Linked DNA regions of Homo sapiens: region 2 is linked to region 1. The links come from fine-mapping of genetic effects on gene expression. Tissue or cell type: lung. Region 1 holds a variant in brackets; the other region holds the start of a gene. All regions are shown on one strand. Distances are between the middles of the regions.

Region 1 (10,652 bases):
TCATAATAATAAAGAAGCTCATTTTATAATGATAAAGGGATAACTTCATCAAGAGAACCTAACAATCTTAAGCTTTTAGCCACTTAGCAAAATATGGGTTTCAAAAACATGAAGAATTGAAAGAAGAGATGGGCAAATCCACACTTACAGATGAATATTACAGTACTCCATTCTCAGTAATTAATAAAGCAAGTAGATAGAAAATCACTAAGATTTTAGAAGACTTGCAAAACACTATCAACCAACATGACTTGATTGACAATTTAGAAAACTCTGCCCAACAATAGCAGAATTCACAATCTTTTCATGTGCACATGGAACTTACCAACATTACTATGCCCTGTCCTATAAAATGAATCTCAATAAATAACACTTTGATATCATACAAAGTATGTTAATTGGCACCATGGTACTAACTCAGTTACAGAATGGTATCTGGAAAATCCTCAAATTCAACATATTTGGAAAGTAAATAACATGTTTCTAAGGATGACTCAATGAAATAATCAAAATAGAAGTCAGATATCATTGTGAACTGCATAAAAGTAATGGCAAACATATCAGAATTTGTCGGGTGCTGACAATGCATAGAGAAAAATTTATACCACTAAATGCTTTCATATGATAAAAAGAATGGTCTCAAATCAATGACCTCAGATTACATCTTGAAAATCTAGACAAATAAGGCCAAATTCAAAGCAAAGTAAGCAGAATAAAGAAATAATAAAGATCAGAGTGAAAATCAATGAAATAGAATACAAAAATAGATAAAATTAATAAAACCAGAAGTCAATTTTTTGATCAAAATCATGAAACCTGATAAACATCTAGCCATATTTATCCAGCTGAAAAAGTGGAAACAAATTCCCAACATCAGGAGTAAAAGGTTTAAAATGGATACAGATTACAGATATTTTTAAAAGTTAATAAGAGAATATTAAAACATTATGTCAAAAATCCCATAACGTAGGTGAAATTGACAGCTATTTTAAATACACAAACTACCAAAGCTCACATTGTAGCCCAAATGGTCATTAATAAATTTAACTTTATATTTAAAACCTATTCAATATAAATTTTTCCAAAATAATTGAAGAGGAGGAAATACTTCACAACTAATTCTATTTGGTTTCCCCATAACCAAAATCAGACAAGGACACTATAAATAAATAAAAGCCCAGATTAATAACTCTTATGAATGTCAATGGAGTTATTAATAACAAAATTTTAGCAAAGACATACAAAAGTTATATGACCCAGTAGCTTATTCTAAGAATGCAAGGTTGGTTTAACAGTAAAAGACTAACAAGTATATGTCAGTATCTCAACAGAATAAAGAAAGAGCTGTATGATCATCTCCATAGTTACATAAAAACTATTTGAGAAAATACAACATCTATTCCTCATTTAAAAAAAAAAAAACATTCAGCAAATAAAGGGAAAACAAACTTCCTAAAACATCATAGATAAAGATGTAAAAATTGAACATTTTTTCCAGCGATGAGGAGAAAGGCAAAGATGCTCATGCTAACCCCTTCTGTTCAACATTTTACTGGATGTTCTAGTCATTGTAAAAATACATGAAAAGAAATTACAGGTATACAGATTCCAAAGAAAGAAGTAAAGCTGTCTTTATTCCCAGAGAACATGATAACATATGTAAAACATTTACTGGTGTCTATAAAATCATCTTCTAAAATTAATAAGTGAGTTTAACAAGGCCGAAGAATAAAAGCAATATATAAATAATCGTAACTTTGTATATTATGAATAAGCAATCAGAAATTTAAATTTAGAAAGCAATTGCTTTGCACTGCACTCCAGTTTGTGAATTTGTTTCCCACAGGGTCATGGGCTAAAAATTCTGGTGCTTTATACATTTATACCAGAATTGAACAATTAAGTAAATGAATGGCAAAAACTGGTTTCTCAGTGTTACAGTATAAGTTTACAGATAAGCAAGGAGAGGAGGCCAGAATGGCCCATATGGTAATGCATTAGAATTGGAGACATCAGTATTAGCTCATATTTAATTTAATAAATATAGATTATTACATATAGGAATATAGATATGCATATATGTGCAAATTAGAATATAACCATATATGGTTATTTTCTTTCTCTGTCACCTGAGAGGACCTAGAAATAATAATACCCAGCAGCAGTAACCATACCTAGCATGCACAATTCAGATTCTAATACCATTCTCAAATGAAAGGAATTCAGTCTTCTTGGAGAAATGGCTGATTCTAGAACTGGGGCAGGAAATATATGAGATTTGAAATATCTTGTGGTACTAGAAAGAAAGAAGTCACTTGAAAATAAAACAACACACAGTACACTGATGGGATATGACAAAGAGACACTAACTGAAAGTGCTCTTAGTGGCCAAAAATGTAATAATCAGAGCAATAAATAAATACATGGTATATATAATATGATATAGTATATGTAATACAAAGTAGTATCAGATTATAAACAAAAGAATAAAATAAATATCCATGAGTCCATAGTGATATAACTAAATAATAAATAAATAAATAAATTACAAGAGATACATCTCACATGCAGAAGACTTATAAATAATTTACATAGATATTTCACCTTAAGGAAGTGGAGCATTCCCATTCATTAATGTGGGCTAACCGTAGGGAATCCCTTTCAAAAAGTACAGTATTCATAAAGTAAAAAAAAGAATAACTTTACCACGGATTGCAATAGAATGATGCTTTACAAAATACCAGACCACTATGCCTCAAAACTGCCAGTTTTATCAAAAATTAAAAAAAGTCTTAGAAACTGTCACAGCCAAGAGGGGCCTAAAAAGATATAATATGTACATATAATGAGATATACTGGCTGAGAACCTAGAACAGAAACAATACATTAGATGAAAATGAAGTGTATTAGTCTGTTTTCACCCTGCTATAAAGATACCACCTGAGACTGGGTGATTCACAAACAGTAGAGATTTAGTTGACTCACAGTTCTACATGACTGGGAGGCCTCAGAAAACTTATAATCATGGTGGAAAACGAAGGAGAACTTTACAATTCTGTAACAATTTGACATACTTTGAAATAAGTCTAAAAAAGAAGTGTAAAACTTGTGCACTGGAAACTATAAAACATCACCGAGAGAAATTAAAGAAGTCTTAAATGAAGAGATAGATACGCTGTGTTCATGTGTCGGCAGACTCGGTAGCTAAGACATCAAATGTTCATAATTAACCCACAAATCTAATAGAATTTCAATCAAAATTCCAGAAAGCTTTTTTTTTAATTGACAAACTGATTCTAAACACCATATAATAATGCAAAGGACTTAGTAAAGCTTAGGCATCCTTGAAAAGAACAAAACTTGGAGGACAAATACTACCTGATTTCAATAATTCAGAGCTACAGTAATTGCGAGAGAATAGTGATAACATCAAGACGGACACACTTATCAATAGAAAAAAATAGAAAATACAAAAATAAACGCATACATATATGCACAACTGATTTTCAACAAAGATGTGGACGCAATTCAGTAGAGGAAAGATAGCTTTCTTAGTAAATGGTACCCAAAGAACTAGTAAATGGTACCCATATGCAAAAAAAATTCACTTCGAACCAAATTTTGCACCATCCATGAAAAATAACTCAAGATGGATCATAAACCTCAATGTAAAACCTAAATCTATAAAATTGCTGGGGGAAAACATAAGAGAAAAATATCTTACCTTGAAAACTATGGCTGATAAATTTTATAAATTATAAATTGAACTTTATAAATTTGAAAACTTCTGTTCTTATGTCTCATTGCCCAGAGCTTAGTTATATGGTCTCACAAAGCTGCAGGAGAGTTTAGATAACACAGTTGCAATTCTGGGATGCCATGTACCCAGATAATAATTCTCTTACAATGGAAGAAGAAATGAATGGAGAAAGGGCACAACTCTTGGTCCCTGTCACAAATACTAAACACAAGTTAAACCTACAGAAGTCAACAAAATTATGTTTTTTCCATATTAGTGCTCCAGTGCTTTGGTTGAAATATTTATATATTCTTTCTATTATTTAAAAGTTAATTTTATATCATACTTTAAAAATAAAACTGAAAGAAGGCAAAACAAAAAGCAAAAACCCTCCTATAACACTGTCCCATCCTAAGATAATTTGCCTCTTTTATGTAACTTGAATAGTATTGTTGATGTCATCTGTCCTCCCAGACTTTCAGTCCCATTCCATAGTTAGCCCTGCATAGGACCTGGCACAGAGTATTTGCCTCACAGTTTTCTAATAAAAGCATTAACAAATGAATGAAAACAATCTGAATGTCCACAATAGCAAATGACTGCTAAGAGTAAAGTAATGGTTCAACTTTTTTAGGCATCTAATCCATGACAAGCGTTGCACGATATATAGCAGCTCATGATAACCGCACACAACAAATCTTTAGTCACTATTGTCTTATTTTAAAGATGAGAAAAACAGAGGTTTAGAAACTTTTAGTTAATTGTCCAAGTTTGGTATGCTATTAGAAAGCAGTGGTCAGATGTTACTTTAACAACACTGGATGAACTTGCCTAAGTACTAAGTAAGTGAACTTGGACAACTCGTTCTTTATTTTCCTGATAGGAAAGAAAAGAGGGCTGCATTGTGTGCAGGAAAATAGAGTGAGAAAAGAGGTCTGCACTGTGTGTGTTATCTCTATGACCATTTGTTATGTCTGTTACATATGACTTAGCCTATAGGTGGCATAACTTCTCTGGATAATAAGAAGCCCGCTTTCATCCGCCTCAAAAATGCCCAACCCTGTGTTCCCCATCATCTAGACTGTTTATTGCATCAAGTTTTGATAGGTGTCACCTACCTTCTCTTTCACAAACTTTGGGACCTTGTGCAGATGGTACCCCTAACATCTGAAAAAGCAGAAGCATGTCTCCAATTTTGCATAGAACATATTTTCCCATTATGAAAGAGAGAGAGACACAGTAAGAAACAACTTGGAAACAGTGTAATGACAACAACTAATCTGATTATATGTAAAGAAACAAACACTTTCACTCTTATTCCATCTGAGGATAAGACAACAGAACTCTTTACCTCAGGTCAGAGAAAGGAAACAATAAATAATGTAATGTATTATACATCTGTTGCCCTTGATAAAAAAGCACCATTGTGACACTTATAAAGGATTCTTTTATTTTTTGCATTACCTTGGGAGGAGAGAAGGAAATGTCCCTAGTCTCTTTTCTGAAATGCATTTATGCAATGTACCACTGAGGTGTGGAGGACAAGGATTTGGTAAACCCCAGGACTCTACCTTTCACTAAGTCGGTTGTGATTCTTGGGATTGTTACATCAGATTTTCTTAAAGAGTCTCTGTGTTGGTACATACAGCATTTGATTAATTGAATAGGAATCATATTTTCAGTAAGAAGACTAGGGAAATGTTTGATTCTGAGGAGCACTAGGACACAGAAAGAGCCCTTCCACACAGTCAGAAGAGGAGGGATAGATCCCAGGCTCTGGATATATCAGTGACCACAAACATCTCAACTTCTGTCAGCCTCAATTGACCCACAGTTTAGTTAGCAGAACAGTTGCAAGTCAGTTTCAGTTTTTAGAATTCCCTGAAAATTTTGGATTATTAAGCTTGAAATAACGTCATATGTATTTTATCCCTTAAAGATACTTTTACCACCTATTAAGCCCTTTCTTCAGGCCAGGTACTAGGCTAAATACATATATAGTCTCA[T/C]TTAAGCCTTATAAGTACCCTGAGAGGTAGGTGTTATTCTAAGTTCTTCATATAATTGATGAAGGGACCTAGACTCCAAGCAGTAAGTAATTGTTCCTGAGTCACACAGCAAGAAAATTGGTAGACTCTAGATTTGGATACAGACAATGTGAGCAAACACGAAATAAGTAAATAGGAGAGCCACACAAACAGCTATGGGGAACAACAGTAGGGGGACTGACAATGTCCTATGGAGTGTGTCTTGATATCGTTTAATCTAGGTCAGCATTTCTCAAAGTGCACTCATTCATAAGCCTACTTCACTATGCTTTCTAGATCCTTCAGCTAACTGGCTATCTTGATGGTTCTGACAATCTACTTTGGTGTCTTGAGATGGCATTTACCTGGTCATAAGCACTGATAGTTGTAAAATCACAATTATCAGTGCTTATGGAGATACCAGTTATATTTTAAAGTAGAAAGCTAGAGAGAATTATTTTAAAACACATTAAACACATACTCATCAAAAAAATTCTGTCCTTCTTCTAAAATTGTTTTGAATATAAGCTCTGCACTTTGGGAAGTTTCAGACTTGCTAATACTGAGCCTTCAATAAAGTTGTCAAATTGTATTAAATATGTTCTTTCTTCACAGTGAAAGACTTTACACCCAAATAGTGAGTTATTCTACCTGCTCCAAATTACAGTCCCTCTCCTCAAACACTCTATAACAGAAAAAGCAGTAGATAGAATGCAGGTAGGTGCTAAGGTTACAGAGGGACAGGTCCCGCAAGAATTTTACCTAGAGAACAGGAAGCTGTTTCCCTGTTAACCTGCAATTGATGAGTCAGACACTTGCTGAGTTACTGGAAAGAGTGACATTCCCATGACAAAGCCAACTAAAGATGAGCCTTGCCCAAGTGCACAAGTGAAGATGAAGGTTAAGTATATCCTTGAGGAAGTGTCATTCAAGAATAGACCAGCAAGAGCAGAGAGAGAATGAAAGACATAGAGCTGATTCAGCTGCACCTGGAGGAAGTTAAGGTGGCTTTCCTGAGAGACCAATGCTCTGCCTTGGGGTTTCAGCTAGTTCTTTAAGGAGGAGTAACTCTAAGCTTACATCAGATCCTCCCATAGAACTTTAGCAAATTTGGAATATGTATTTGCATACATGAACAAAATAGAAAGATATATTGAGCCTTCATCTCAGAATGTGGATGACAAATCCTTATTTTAGTCTTTATAAAATCTGAGGTTGAAGAAACCCTCCAGGCATTGTAGACAGATATGTGCAATGGATATAATGTACACTTGTTGTAAATTTTGTTGCAGTGTCCAGAATGACAAATCTGTTAAGAAGTTCCCTCATATTGAAGAATAAGACTCGTTTCTCACTAAACTTGCCACACATTGCCCTGATATAGACAAAGGGTAGAAAGTATCAAATATATGAGAACATTTTAAATGAAAGAAAAAGAAAAATTTGTAAATGAAATTTTACTAAGATTTATTTGTGTGAATTGAGAAAAACGAAATCAGAAAGTACTAGTTACAAAGTCGGGCTTGGGAGTCTGCCCTGTTTGTTTCTGACTCAATGACAAGTTTACTAACTAACTGATCTTTGGCTAATTGCTTAACATTTCAAAACCTCAATTTACAGGAAAATTTAGTACAATAATACCATCAAACCTCATAGAGTTACAGTGAATTTTAAATGAGATGACAAATTTTTAGTAGAATGCCTGAAAATAGCAATCATGCATTAAAATAAGGCAGGGTTTCTCCTATGTTTACACCACAACACTTAGGTCCACATTCTTTATGAGAGTTCCAAAGAAACCTAGTATGCAAATCTCAATGGTTCTGACAGTAATTGAGTTCTATAATTTAATAAATAGCAGTGTATCCTCAGGTACCTTTTAGAACGTTTGTGAAAATCACATGGAAAAATCAATAATAGCAGAAATGATAAGAAAGTTTCCTCAACATAGCTTTGTGCTTGTTTTCCATTTCAAAGCATTTTCATACCTCTTATCTAGTGGAACATCAAATAATTAGGAGGCTTAAAATAGATATGATCCTTTTATTTTACAGATGACATGAGCCGAGTCAAAACACAGATAAAGGGCTAAAATCAAGAAATTCTAAAATGCAAAATGACTTACCCAAAGTCAATATAAGTAAATGGTAGAGCTGGAGGTATAAGAGAAATGGAGAAGGTATTAACACATCCTACGACCTCACAAAAGAACACTGAGTTTCATTTTACAGATGGTGAGTTCCACTTTACAGATTTTATGTGTCAACTTGACTGGGTTAAGAGATGCTTAGAGAGCTGGCAAACCATTATTTCTGGGTGAATCCATGAGGGTGTTCTGGAAGAAATCAACATTCGAATCAAAAGACTGAGTACAGAAGATCCACCCTCACAGATGTGGGTAGATGTCATATATCCACGAGGGCCCTGATAAAGCAAAAATGAAAAGCAAGAGTGAATTTACTCTCTCTCTTCTTGATCTAGTAAATCCATCTTCTCCTGCTCTTGGGAATCAGAGCCCTGGTTTTTGGGACTTTCAACTCCAGGACTTACATCAGTTGTCCCTCCTCCCCCAACCTCACCACCCAAGGCCTCACTAAGACTGGGAGTTACATCAAACTGAATTACAGTGCTGGCTTCCCTAGTTATAAAGCTTGCAGACAACAGATCATGGGACTTTTTGGCCTCCATAATTCTGTGAGCCAATTCTCACAGTAAGTCTCTTCATATCTATGAGCCTGTAAAAGTCTCTAGGAAGAGCCTATCAAGTCTCTTCCACCTATGAGCCTGTAAAACCAAAACCAGGTTAGTTACTTCTAAGACATAATGAGGACATAGGCATTGGGTAAATATTTCTGTTCTAAAAGGGAGAAATTGGCCAAAAGAAAAGGGCTACAGGCCCCACGCATGTTCAAAATTCAGCAGGGAAGTTGTTAAATCTTAAAGTTCCAAAATAAACTTTAATTCCATGTCCTACATCCAGGGCACACTGGTGCAAGGGGTGGGCTTCCAAGGCTTTGGGCAGCTCTGCCTCTGTGTCTTTGCAGGATTCAGAGGGCTGCTGTTACAAATTGGGAGTGAATGCTTGTAGCTTTTGAGATGCAGGGTGCAAGCTGCCAGTAAATCTACCAATCTTGAGTCTGGAGGATAGCAGCCTTCTCCTCACAGGTCCACAAAGCAGTGCCCCAGTGCGAATTCTGTGTGAAGGCTCCAACCCCATATTTCCCCTAGGTACTGCACTAATACAGGTTCTCTGTGGTGCCTCTGCATCTGCAGCAGGTTTCTGCCTAGGCACCCACGCTTTTTCATATAACTTCTGAAATCTAGGTGAGGCTACCAAGCGTTCACTCTTGCACTCTGCGGGTTGCAGACTTAACACCACATGGAAGTTGTCAAGGCTTAGGGCAGCTTAATCTCTCCAGAGGAGTGGCATGAGCAGTATCTGGGGATACTTTGAGCTGAGGATGGAGAAGGAACAGCCAAGATAAGGGGAGCAGTATCCCAAAGCTGCACAGGGCAATGGGTCTGAAACTATTTCTCTTCTGAAACCATCCTCTCCTCCTAGGCCTGAGAGTTTGTGATGAGAGGGGCTGCTGCAAAGGTCTCTGAAATGCCTTCAAGGCCTTTTTTGCATTGTCTTGGCTATCAGCACTCGGATCCCTTTTAGTTATGCAAACATCTCTAGCAAGTGGTTGCTCCATGTCTTGCTTGAATTCTTCTCCTGAAAATTGGCATTTCTTTTCTACCAAATGGCCGGGTTGCATATTTTCCAAAATTTTATGTTATGCTTCCCTAAGTTTCAGCTTTAAGTCATTCCTTTGCTCCTGAATCTGAGCAGAGGCCCTTAGAAGCAGCCAGGCCACATCTTAAACATTTTGCTTCTTAGAAATTTCTTCCAGCAGATAGTGAATTATCACTGTCAAATTCAAACTTCCAGAGATCCCTACAGTATGAATAGTATGCAGTCAAGTTCTCTGCCAAGGCATAACATTCATGACTTTTGCTTCAGTTCCTAGTCATTTCCTCATTTCCTTCGGAGACCTCAGCAGCCTGGACTGTCTACATCACTATCAGCACTTTGGTCAAAACTATTTTTCCAATCTCTAAGAAACTGCAAACTTTCCCTCAACTTCCTATCTTCTTATGAGCCCTCCAATTCTTCCAATCTCTGCTCAGGTATCTTTATTGCAATGCCCCATCCTTAGTACCAATTTTCTTTATTAGGCTATTCTTTTAATTATATAAAAATATCTGAGATGGGTAACATATAAGAAAAGAGGTTTTATTGGCTCATGGTTCTGCAGGCTTTACAGAAAGCATAGTGGTATCTGCTTCTGGAGGGGCCTCAGGAAGCTTCCAATTATGGCAGAATGTGAAGGGAGAGCAGGCACATCACTTGGCAAAAGCAGAAGCAAAAGAGAAGTAGGGGAGGGAGAGAGAGAGAGAGGAAGTGCCACACATTTTTAAATGATCACATCTTGTGAGAACTCACTATCATGAAGACAGAACCAAGTCATGAGGGATCTACTCCCATGTTCCAAACACCTCACACCAGGCCCCACATCCAGCTTTGGGGATTACAATTCAACATGAGATTTGGGTGGAGAAAAATATCCAAAGTGTATCATGAGGTATTTTACATAAAGCTCTAGACCTGTGCCTAACACATGGCAAATGCTTCATAAGCAACAGTTTTTGTTTTGCTATTGTTGTTATTATTTTATTTCTAGTGCCATGGTAGTCTTCTTTCTAGAGCAGCAGTTCTCAAAAAGTGGTCCTTGGGCCAGCAGCATCCACTTTACCTGGGAACTTGTCAGAAGTTAGGTAAATTCTTAGTCTTATCTAAGATCTATTGAATGAAAAACTCTGGGATGGGACCCAGAAATCTGAAT
Region 2 (10,652 bases), 150 kb after region 1:
CAAAGATGATCCCTATGTATCTAAGACATTGACATTTCCTGGAGTGCTGTCAAAGCAGCTGATACTTTTGATATTTCCTAAGAGTAATTCTTCCAGGCAAGGCAGGCATGTAATATTCCTTTAAGGATTTTCTACTTTGGAAGCTGCTTTGTCACAAACACCCTCCTTCCCTTTGGAAACAGGATCTCTCTGGTTTCATGTCCCCTTCCTGAACTGAGTCCATCTTTTCTTTTACATGTGAATATTTTATATGTCTTCAGTAAGTGTCAGAGTTTCTATGCGTACTTAGCAAAGGTTATGGCTCTTAAAAAATTTAAATTCATATATTAATATAATCAACCTAGGAAGTCAAAGGTACATCAAGGGAGAAAACAAATTTCCTTTTCTTAAACATATCTACTGTAAATGTGGCCAATGGTATGTAGCAACATCACTAAACAAATAAGTTATTTTCCAGTGAAACAATAGGATATTTCCCCCACCACCACAACTACCTAAATGAAATAAATTACACCAAGTTAAGTATTTTCGTTAAACTCAATTGTGAAAGTCTGGTTTTTTTCTATAAATTATAGAAATAGTGTCTAAGTTTTGAACAGAAACAGAATTAGTAGGCCCTCCATTCAAACAATAAAGAGTTCTACTACCTTCATCTGCGATTCAGGCTCATCCTAACAGATTTCTCAAAGTCTAAATGTCTCAGAAGTTTCTTATTTACTTTGCCTTTGAAAACTCAAAAAAGTGACATTTTTATTTCTATCAGTTACTGACTGCTTATGACAGCATTTTTATTGAGCATGTGGATGTCAGATTCCTGCAATACAACTTTAAGCATTGGATTTAACCACGAGATCCTGGGCAAGGTACTTAGCCACATGAAGCCTCGGTACTCAGTATCCTAGTCAGTAAGATGGAAATAATAAAATAGAGAAGGACCTAATTCACATAATTACTAGAATGATTAAATGGGACATTTGTAAAAAATCTTAAGAAAGAGCTGACACCTAGTAGGTGCTAAATCGTGGCTAACATTATTATTATCTTATTATCTCTATGTAAATTATAGTTGCTAGAAGTTGGGGGATATGGGCCCAAGGAAAATCAGTTTTTCGCTTCAGGGAGCTCACTGTTTCATGGGGAGGAGTGACAGATACATACGCCAATGGCTAGTCCCTGTATAAGGGACCATACCAAAAGTACCCATAACAGACTATTAAACAGAGAAGGAAGTCATTAGTTCTCAATGGGGATATCAGGAAAGTTCTCATGCAGAGACAACATTGCTCAAACTTTGAAGGATGAGGTAAGCAAGTATATTCAGGGAGGAATACAGGGGAAGAGGAGGAAGTTGTGTGCAAAAAGACACTGAATTGTTAAAACGCTGTCCTCAGATCACAGTAGAGACCCTGCCTTAATAAATATGCAGAGGATAAATGAAAGCATTATGAAAGATCTATCATAGCTTCAAAAGAATGTGTGGACTTCTCTTGATTTTTTCCCTTTCACTCTCTTTCTTTCTTTCTTTCTTCTTCTTTCTTTCTTTGACGGAGTTTCACTCTTGTCGCCCACGCTGGAGTGCAATGGCGTGATCTCGGTTCACTGCAACCTCTGCCTCCCGAGTTGAGGTGATTCTCTTACCTCAGCCTCCCGAGTAGCTGGGATTACAGGCATGCGCCACCACACCTAGCTAGTTTTTGTATTTTTAGGAGATAGGGGGTTTCACCATGTTGGCCAGGATGGTCTCATTCTCTTGACCTCGTGATCCGCCGGCCTCGGCCTCCCGAAGTGCTGGGATTACAGGCGTGAGCCACCGCCCCCAGCCGACTTCTCTTGTTTTAAGTGGCTCTTAATCATTTGGTGGTTTGCATATTCCAAAAAGCTTCTAAATATTTGTGTTGAACCAATGCTTTCATTCAAAAACAGAATGCTTCTTGGGCTGAATGGCACTATGTCATCCCAACAAGAAGAACATCGGAATCTAATTGTGTCATCCATGTTCTTATTTTAAAACAATCTACGGTAACACCCTTCCAGCCATGAAGCGTTCAGTCAGTTGAACAGATGTGATGTGTTCTCCCTGATGCATTAGCTTCAACCTCTGAGTTCATGAAATTGAGTTTCTTTCTGTAGCATGCTGTGTTCATTCATCAGCCTGAGTCATTTTATCTGATTGGGTCCAATCTCCCCCTCCTTGGCCCGCCTCCTTTTGCTGCTGAATAAATCATCCTGGGAGCTGTCCAGGTTGGAGAAAGATTTTCATAGGAAAGTTCCAACTGCATCCAGCCCCTCATTTATTCAGGCTGAGTCCTTAGGGCCCCAAGGAGAAAGAAGTGAGAAAATAAAGTGATGCCTTCCATTGCCAAGTTTGCTAATATGGTCATTAGCACAGATGCCTTCGGGCAATGCCCGCAGAGAGAGGACACAGCTACCCACACATTCTGGCATAGGGTCTATAGGACAGCCTTCCCAGCTGTGCTCCGTCTGGGTTCCCATCTCAAGTTAAGAGACTCATTACCCACCCGAGTTCCAGTAGGGTGAGGCTGATGAGTCCAAGAAATTCAGGAAGGAAGAAGCAAGAAGCATTTCTTTGACAGGAATGTAATTGCAGGGGTTATTTCATTAAGGGCTAGATAACTGTAACACAGAGTTGTTTGAGGTACTTTTACCCTTAACTTCCAGGCCCATGGGATAGGCCAACTATTCTGGGAGATCTTTAATGTTAACAGATTAATTCATCTACAAGCAGAGTTAAAAATAGAATCAGCCGTCTATCTATTTAAAGTTGAGCGTTTCATTTTGGCTTTCTTGGGGGATGGTAGAATACAACTTAAAAGGATTGAAATTAAAGAAGTCTTTTCCAGGGAGTGAACGAAATTCTAGAAATCTACTGGTTAGGGATTGGGGGGAATATTAGAGGATTCTTTTCTCTTCCTTCTGGAATTCTGTGTGCAAGGCAGGTGGCCCGTTTTGGGTTTAACCCGAAGCCGAAATGCGTGGGGAGAAAAACAGGAATTAAAAAGCAAAGAATTAAACCCCGCGTTTCTGGGACACGGCCGACAGAAATAACCCTGGAGACAGTGTATGTGGTTGGGGGTGGGGGTATCGAAATTATTTTTCCTTAGGACAGGCAGGAGGGAAGGGAGCTTCTCTTCTTGCTCAGGAGGGACTGAGGGGGCGGCAAGGCAAGGCGGTCATTTGGGCTTTCATGGGACGCCACGGGGAGCCGCGAACGCGCCCAGGGCCTGACGTCATTGGCCATCAGCTGACTGTGCTCTGGGCCCGGGCTCCACTGGCTGCAGCCGCAGTCTTGGTGGAGGAGGTGGTGACCACCACCGCTCCTCCACCTGCATCCGGCTGCGGGACTGCGGCGGCCGCGTTTGCCCTGCAGACCCTGCACCCCGGGACGCGGCTCATCTGTCATTAGCACCGGCACTAAGCTCCCACCGCTCAGCGACTTGGTCCGCCGCAAGCTCCGCCGCAGGCTTTGTCCGCTAGCGCTCGGCTGAGTCTGGGCGGGCGGGAAACCTGGGCTAGGGCGAGGCGGGGCCCCTGGACATGCCTTTCTCCACGTCCGCCTCCTCGACCCTATTGTAAGCGGAGAAACTTAGTGTGCGAGGCAGGCAGGGGACGTCCCCATTTTGATGTCCCGTACCCTCCACCCCCTTCGGATCGAGGTAGTAAAGAGGCTCCTGTAGGAAACTGACTGCCTCTATGATTGCGGCCTCTTGGGGGATTTTGCGTTTAGCCCGAAAGTTGGCTTTGCCAAAAGACGCACGGGTAGGAAGGGCGAAAAGGAAACCCTGTATTCCGTCGCGCTGGGCTCTCCGAGTCCGTGCGCAAAGCGGCCTACGAGTCCTGGCTCCGCACCTGCAGAGGACAAGAGCCAATGCCTAAAAAAGAACAGCGGAGGAACCGGCTGGCGCGGCCAGCTGGAACGCTGGATCGCAGTGCGCCCAGGGAAGGCCGGGGGCGCCCGCCGGCCCTAGCCCTCAGTGGTCCTCTCCCACGCCGGCCCGCGCGTGCCTCTGCCTACAAGACCTGGGGCGTCCTGGCCAGATCTGGATGGCAGGTCCCTCCGCCACCCCCGGCCCGGTTCCGGGGGCGTGGCTTGGCGCGGGGGCGGGTTTAAGTCACCGCGGGTGTCTGACCACTCTGACAGGTCTCCAAATTTCTCCCAGTCGCCTGGCGCCCGCGGTGCGTTTCAGAGCTCCAGGGTGGCACGCGGCGGCGCTTCCCTAGATCCAGAGGCGTCTCTGTCGACTTCCACGCGGCCTCGGGCCTCCCTTCTCCTCCAAACCTTCGCCTCATCCGCCAAGCTTCGGTTCTCAGCCTCAGATATCCGCACCGGCGGCTTCTCTTCGTTCTCGGAGCTCTTGGCTTTGGAGCCCTCACCACTTTTTCCTTCCCCCGCCTCTCCTGATCCTCCTAGCTCCGAGCCAAATGGACTCCAAAGAACGAAATAAAGGGGATGAGAACTGTGTGCTGCGACCCTTCGAAAGCACAGCTGAAAGCGTTGACCTCGTCTTATAGCTCAGGCTGGGACCCTGGAGCGAGAGTCCCCACACCCCCTCCGGGAGGGATGCTTCTGGCCAGAGCCAGCGCTGCGCTGTCAGTCCTTGCTCCCGAACTAGGAAAGAGCCTAGGAGGGAGCCTCAGCATACCCCTTCCTCCAAATTAACTATTTGGTGAATTGTTAGCGCCGAGGCTACCACCTCTCCAACCCTGTCGCGGGGCGCCCCGCCACCTCACCGTGACCCCCTCCTCCTCCTTCTTTGCCCCCGCCCCCAGCTCCGCCCCTGCTCCCCATCCCGGCGCAATGGAGTTCTCCGAAGGGCGATGATTCCAGCCACATCTGCTAACTTCGCACCCATCGCTGCCGCCGGTCACCGCCGGCCAGGCCCCCTGCAGCCGCGGAGCAGTGGGCGTCCAAAGCCCAGTGCAGCAGCCAGGACCCGCCCGACGCGCAGCAGAAGCACGGCGCCCAGGCGCTTAGGCGTCTCTTGGAGAGCAAAGGCTGCGCCAAAACGCTGAGCCTAGAATCAACCAAGGAGCCTGAGCCCAGGAAGGGGCTGCGTGGCTCACAGCGCTGCGGCTCCTGAGGACAAATAGCCACTGCCGCTGCGTACCCAAGCTGCGCCGGCTGGCGGGAGAGCAGCACGCAAGGACGCCGAGGTCCGCCGCGATCTTCCAGGTGCCCTTTGCCCCTGGGCACAGTATGACCCGACCTACAGGGAGCCCTAGCGCAGGGCTCCTGCAACGGGGCAGCCTAGGATAAAAAGGATCCTTGCCAAGCTCCTACCAGGCCGCCTTTGAGTCTTTAGGAACCCCTCCTCCGGCTGCCTCCCCAAGGTTCTGGGCCTCCTTCCCTGCGGCCCAGAGCCATGGAGCTCTCCGATGTGCGCTGCCTTACAGGCAGCGAGGAACTCTACACCATCCACCCGACGCCCCCGGCCGGCGACGGCAGGAGCGCCTCCCGGCCGCAGCGGCTGCTGTGGCAGACGGCGGTGCGACACATCACGGAGCAGCGCTTCATTCACGGGCACCGGGGAGGCAGCGGCAGCGGGAGTGGAGGCTCGGGCAAAGCCTCGGACCCTGCGGGCGGCGGCCCCAACCACCACGCGCCGCAGCTGTCAGGCGACTCGGCGCTGCCCCTCTACTCGCTGGGCCCGGGAGAGCGAGCGCACAGCACCTGCGGCACCAAAGTCTTCCCGGAACGCAGCGGGAGCGGCAGTGCCAGCGGCAGCGGAGGCGGGGGCGACCTGGGCTTCCTGCACCTTGACTGTGCCCCTAGCAACTCGGATTTCTTTCTTAATGGGGGCTATAGCTACCGAGGGGTCATTTTCCCCACCCTGCGCAACTCCTTCAAATCTCGGGATTTGGAACGCCTCTACCAGCGCTATTTCTTGGGCCAAAGGCGCAAATCGGAAGTGGTGATGAACGTGCTGGACGTGCTGACCAAACTCACTCTCTTGGTCCTACACTTGAGCCTGGCCTCGGCCCCCATGGACCCGCTCAAGGGCATCCTGCTGGGCTTCTTCACCGGCATTGAGGTAGTGATCTGCGCCCTGGTGGTGGTCAGGAAGGACACCACCTCCCACACGTACCTGCAGTACAGCGGCGTGGTCACCTGGGTGGCCATGACCACCCAGATCCTGGCAGCAGGCCTCGGCTACGGGCTCCTGGGCGACGGCATAGGCTACGTGCTCTTCACGCTCTTCGCCACCTACAGTATGCTGCCGCTGCCGCTCACCTGGGCCATCCTGGCCGGCCTGGGCACCTCGCTGCTGCAGGTCATCCTCCAAGTGGTCATACCCCGGCTGGCGGTCATTTCCATCAACCAGGTAACTCCTGCCTGCCTTGCATTTGTTTCCCCTCTAACTTCCCCGGGTTATTGATCATATAGCTTCCAGAGAGCCAGGGTTGCCTCACTCTCTTTAAGTCTCCGCCTTCAGTCTGGCACAGTGCCTTGTACCTAGGAGGTCTTGAGTGTTAGCGGAATGCAATCTCTTCTTAAAGTGGAACTAAATGACCTCTAAAAGTTTCTACCAACTCTACCCTTCTACTCTGATTCTATGAGTAATTCTACTCTGACATCAGCTAAGAAAGTCTGCTTTCTGCTCCTCATTCCCCTCCCTCAGGGTCTGCAGTCTCCGGAGCAGGAGACAGAAGGGGAGGAGAAGCATCCAGATTTAGAAGGTGACCCATTCCTTAACATCTCTCCTCAGGAGAGTCGCAGCAGGGTGTTGTAGCAGGCTCTGGGCTTCAGAGTTGGGTTTTTCCGTATCTCTAAGCCACAAACCCTCAGTTCTCAAAGGAACATACATTTGTTAAACACATACTGATTGTCAGTGCTGAGTACTGTACGTGTTATGTCATCCAATCCTTCAAACAATCCTATGACACATGGTTTTCTCGGGAATTTTTTATTGCCTTGGTGACCAAACATGATATCTTCTCTCATGACACGATGCGACCCCAGTGCTTTGAATAAACCAACCTCAGTAATTGGGGGTGGCAAAGAATGCAAGTTTTGATTAATTGGAAAAGGGCATTTTGATGTAGATGCTTTAAATATTATATTTAGGTGGAATCTTGTTCTTTAGGTATCTTTCCCTCCTTTCTCCTCCTTTTTTTTCTATTCTTCCCCTTAAATATGGATATGCTTATGTGAACAAAGTTCACATTGTCTATGGATGAGAAAGTAGACAATGTTTCTATTGTTTAAATTTACTAGAACCAATAGCTAATTAATGGCATGGCACTGTCTTTGCAAAATGTATGGTAGGTAACAGGAGAGTGACTTTGGGGGTTTCTCAAAAATGAGGGAAACATGTCAAGTGAAGTGTTTTCAAACAGATGGCTGGTGTGAGATGCATGGTCAGGGGGCTGCTTTGTATGGGCCTGCTCTGTCGTTAGCCTCTGTATCATTTTTGCTGTATTAGAAGCTTAAAACTCCTCTTCCTTATGGTCGAATTTGAATAGATGATGCTTAGAATAAACAGGCACGACCCCACTGAAAATTGTTCATGATGTTTAGATTGCCAGCACTGTTAGAGTGCTTCACCCATCACTGGCCTCCTGGACTTCTGGTCAATGTGGGATCCTGTCTCTTCTCCAATGGTTCTATATTCCTTTGCTCAGGTGACTTATCTGGTTGGCTGCTTTTACAGTGCTTTCTGAAGTCTCTCTGGGTAAAGCAAAGAGTTTATAAATTACATGCCTGTGATTATCAAGCATGAAATGGAGAGATGAGAGACTCTGAGTAAGGGTTGATTGACTGAACTTTTTCTTATTAAAGACAATAATGAGTGTTTTATCACAGTCACCATGAACCTTCATATCTACATATAACAAATAAGTCTCAATCTGGGAAGTGGAAGTCAAATTCTTTGGTATTAACTATTTCTCAATCCTGTTTACATGAAGATCTACATGCCAGTACATCTAAATCTACTTTCTTCCAAGCTCTCTCATTCTCTTTTTTATTTTTCTTTGTTGTATACATAGACATTAGCAGATCTTTTCTTCCCTGTCTTCCTCCCCTTCCTCCTTCTTTTTCCTTCTCTTTGCCTTCTCTTTTTTTCATCTAACTCACTATGAGTTGTTTTCACGATAAAGCATAGCTATCTGATCATGTATAAGAAATTCCATGTATTATAACCCACTACTTTTCACGCAATAGCCTTTCTCAGTACACACAACTAGAAAACTTAATAAGTAAGTTTGGAATAGTATTTAGAATAACACATCCTAAGTGGCAAATTATGAGTGTTTTCAAAGTTCTAAGTATAGATATATTTTTCTTGCCAAGTGAATCCAGAAAGTAAATTTTGGCTCCATATTTGTTTTATATTCTACTCAAATACTACCAGATGGGAGAAGATTAAAAATAACCCCCAAATGTCTTCCCACCCTCATCTCATCATAAACAATTCTCCACTGTGAAATCCAAGGTCCTGATGCATGTAAACTAAGCTCATTCAATTTTTTGTTTGGGTAAGAATTACAGATAAACTACGATTTCATAGGTTGAGTCACCTTTTACCAAAACTCTAAAAGAACAACCAGAGCGCTCTCCCCTCACTTCAGTGCTGAAAGGGCTTTTAAAGGTCCTTTGGCGCCCTCTATTGGCTTAAGAGTCTTTCCTAGATCGCGCAGATGGACGAAGTAGAGAATAAATCGCTTTTTATAAGAATCTGTGATTTTTGAATAGGTACTATTTAGTTTTCCATGTCTGGTAACACATAAGGAATGCTCAAAACCTGCTAAACACTTCTTATAGCAACTCGAGTAAAATCCTAACTTCTTACCACAGCATGCTTGATTCTCTGAGCTAGTTGCTTCTTCTCTCTCCAACCATATTTCCCTCTCTTCTCTTCTCTTGTATTCTCTTCATTAGGCTCCAAATATGCTATTCATTTTTGCCATATTCCAAGCTCTTCCTAATTCTGGGTCTTTTCACCTGCTACCTAGAGCAACTTTTCCCAAGTCTTTATAAGACTGGCACATTCTCATTGTTCCAGACTCTCAAATGCTACTTTCTCTAGTAAACGACTTGTTTCATTTTCTCCAGAGCACATCTGCTATCTGAAATTATCTTATTTGTTTATATCTACTATGTTTCTCCCCACACCCTCACAAGAATGTAAACACCATAAGGGCAAGGATGTTGTCTATCATAAATAGCATTTTATCCTCGGCCTGTAGAAAAATGCCAGACATATAGCAGGTACTCAACAAACAGTCACTGAATGAAGAAGACAATTCATCATATAGGAAATATTATAAAATATCCAAGTGCCCTGATGTTGTGTTGGTGAAAGCTTTCTATACACACACACACATACACATCATATGTGTGTAACGCAGTCTTACACGTAAACATCTTCTAAAGAAATCAAAAACAATAATAATCCTTTACTTTGCACAGTATTTTACATGTAACTAAGCACCCTTATGTGCATCATCATATCTAATGATGAAAAATAGATGGTATCATCCTTCATTTTCATTTCAGAGAAAAAAATGACAGAATCCTAGAAACTTTACAGTGATACCCTGAGGATCAGGAACCTGGCAAGTGGAGGACAGAATTCAAACCCTGACTCTGATGCCAATTATTCTTCAGAAACCCTTTAGTGATTATCCTTCTAAACATGTAAGCATTTGAAACTATTAAAGACTGAGGAGTACTTCTTTTACTACTTAAGAGAGTTAAATAAACATTTAACGAAGAAGCCAAAGGGAAATTATGAGAGAAAAATGAGTGAATTGCTGGGCATAGGCTCATTGTAGCTAGCTCATCATTCTGCTTAGCTAGATACAAATCTGTCAACTAAAAGCCATAAACACTGGAATAGCATCTTTCTCCACATTAATCTTCATTCTCTTTAGGAGGATAGCTAATGTTTAACTTAGCATTTTCAGGATTTAGGAAACGAAAATGGGAGTATAGAGTTAGCACACCTTGGCAGCTGTTTCACTTCACTGAAAATGTCATTTTTGAAAGGAACAAATGAGCCAATGATTGCCTTCCTTTAATCTAAGCTATGAGAATCTGCTTTCCCTCTTTCTACCCTGAAGGAAATGACATCTGTGACTTGACAGGGTAGCAACCACACTGAAAATCTCTGCAGACACCCTATATGAAGAGACAAAGCCCTGTGTTTATTGAATCACCATTTGCTTTCCACTGTGGATACAAAATGGAACCTAAAAGGGGCCACTCAGGAAATTCCCTGCCATCAGCAAAGAGATGGTTTATGTTTTCTCTACTCAATTAACACACTACAAACATTGACTTCCCACCCAACAAAGAGATTATTGTCTAGAGCAGACATAATCACCCATATGTTTTCTGCATCTGGAGTGGCATCGGAAAGACCGAGAAACTTTCAGAAGGCTCAAAACCCAGTTTGAAGGGTTCCTTTTATTTCACTCTGACTTAGCTCAGCTATAGGTAGCACTAGGGCTACAATCGTTTCTTTCTTATGAAACCGCACCCAATCCAAGTTAAATAAGCCTCAAACCAATGATAGGAATACCTTGTCCAGATTTTCCTAAGACACTGGTTTATTTTTTCCACATCATAAACCAATTGTTTGTATCACCAATTCGATTTATCCACCAGGAAATTCATTACAAAATGATGT

Direction of the effects. Positions count from the first base shown, and alleles are read on the strand shown. Sizes are in standard deviations (SD) of each study's normalised expression.
For the expression in lung of the gene that starts at base 4,806 in region 2, T is the high allele of the variant in region 1 and C is the other (moderate effect, 0.73 SD a copy in GTEx).

Evidence for each region. PIP is the estimated chance that this variant, and not a neighbour inherited with it, causes the effect.
Region 2: it holds the start of ADCY8, and the variant in region 1 is fine-mapped to the expression of ADCY8 in lung (GTEx, PIP above 0.99).

Annotation. Positions count from the first base shown.
Region 1 is chr8:131,184,797-131,195,448 of GRCh38, reverse strand. All of the region lies in intron 3 of LOC105375760 (a long non-coding RNA gene), which reads right to left. Among named protein-coding and RNA genes, the nearest start is that of IADEN, 120 kb to the left of the region's middle. The variant T/C (reference allele first, on the strand shown) is at 5,746.
Region 2 is chr8:131,035,063-131,045,714 of GRCh38, reverse strand. ADCY8 (adenylate cyclase 8) reads left to right here and starts at 4,806. Exons shown (of 18, transcript NM_001115.3): 1 at 4,806-6,341. The coding sequence starts at 5,382. It overlaps LOC105375760 (a long non-coding RNA gene), which reads right to left and starts at 6,185. Exons shown (of 6, transcript XR_928653.3): 1 at 6,105-6,185. RefSeq lists enhancers at 4,528-5,066, 5,067-5,606.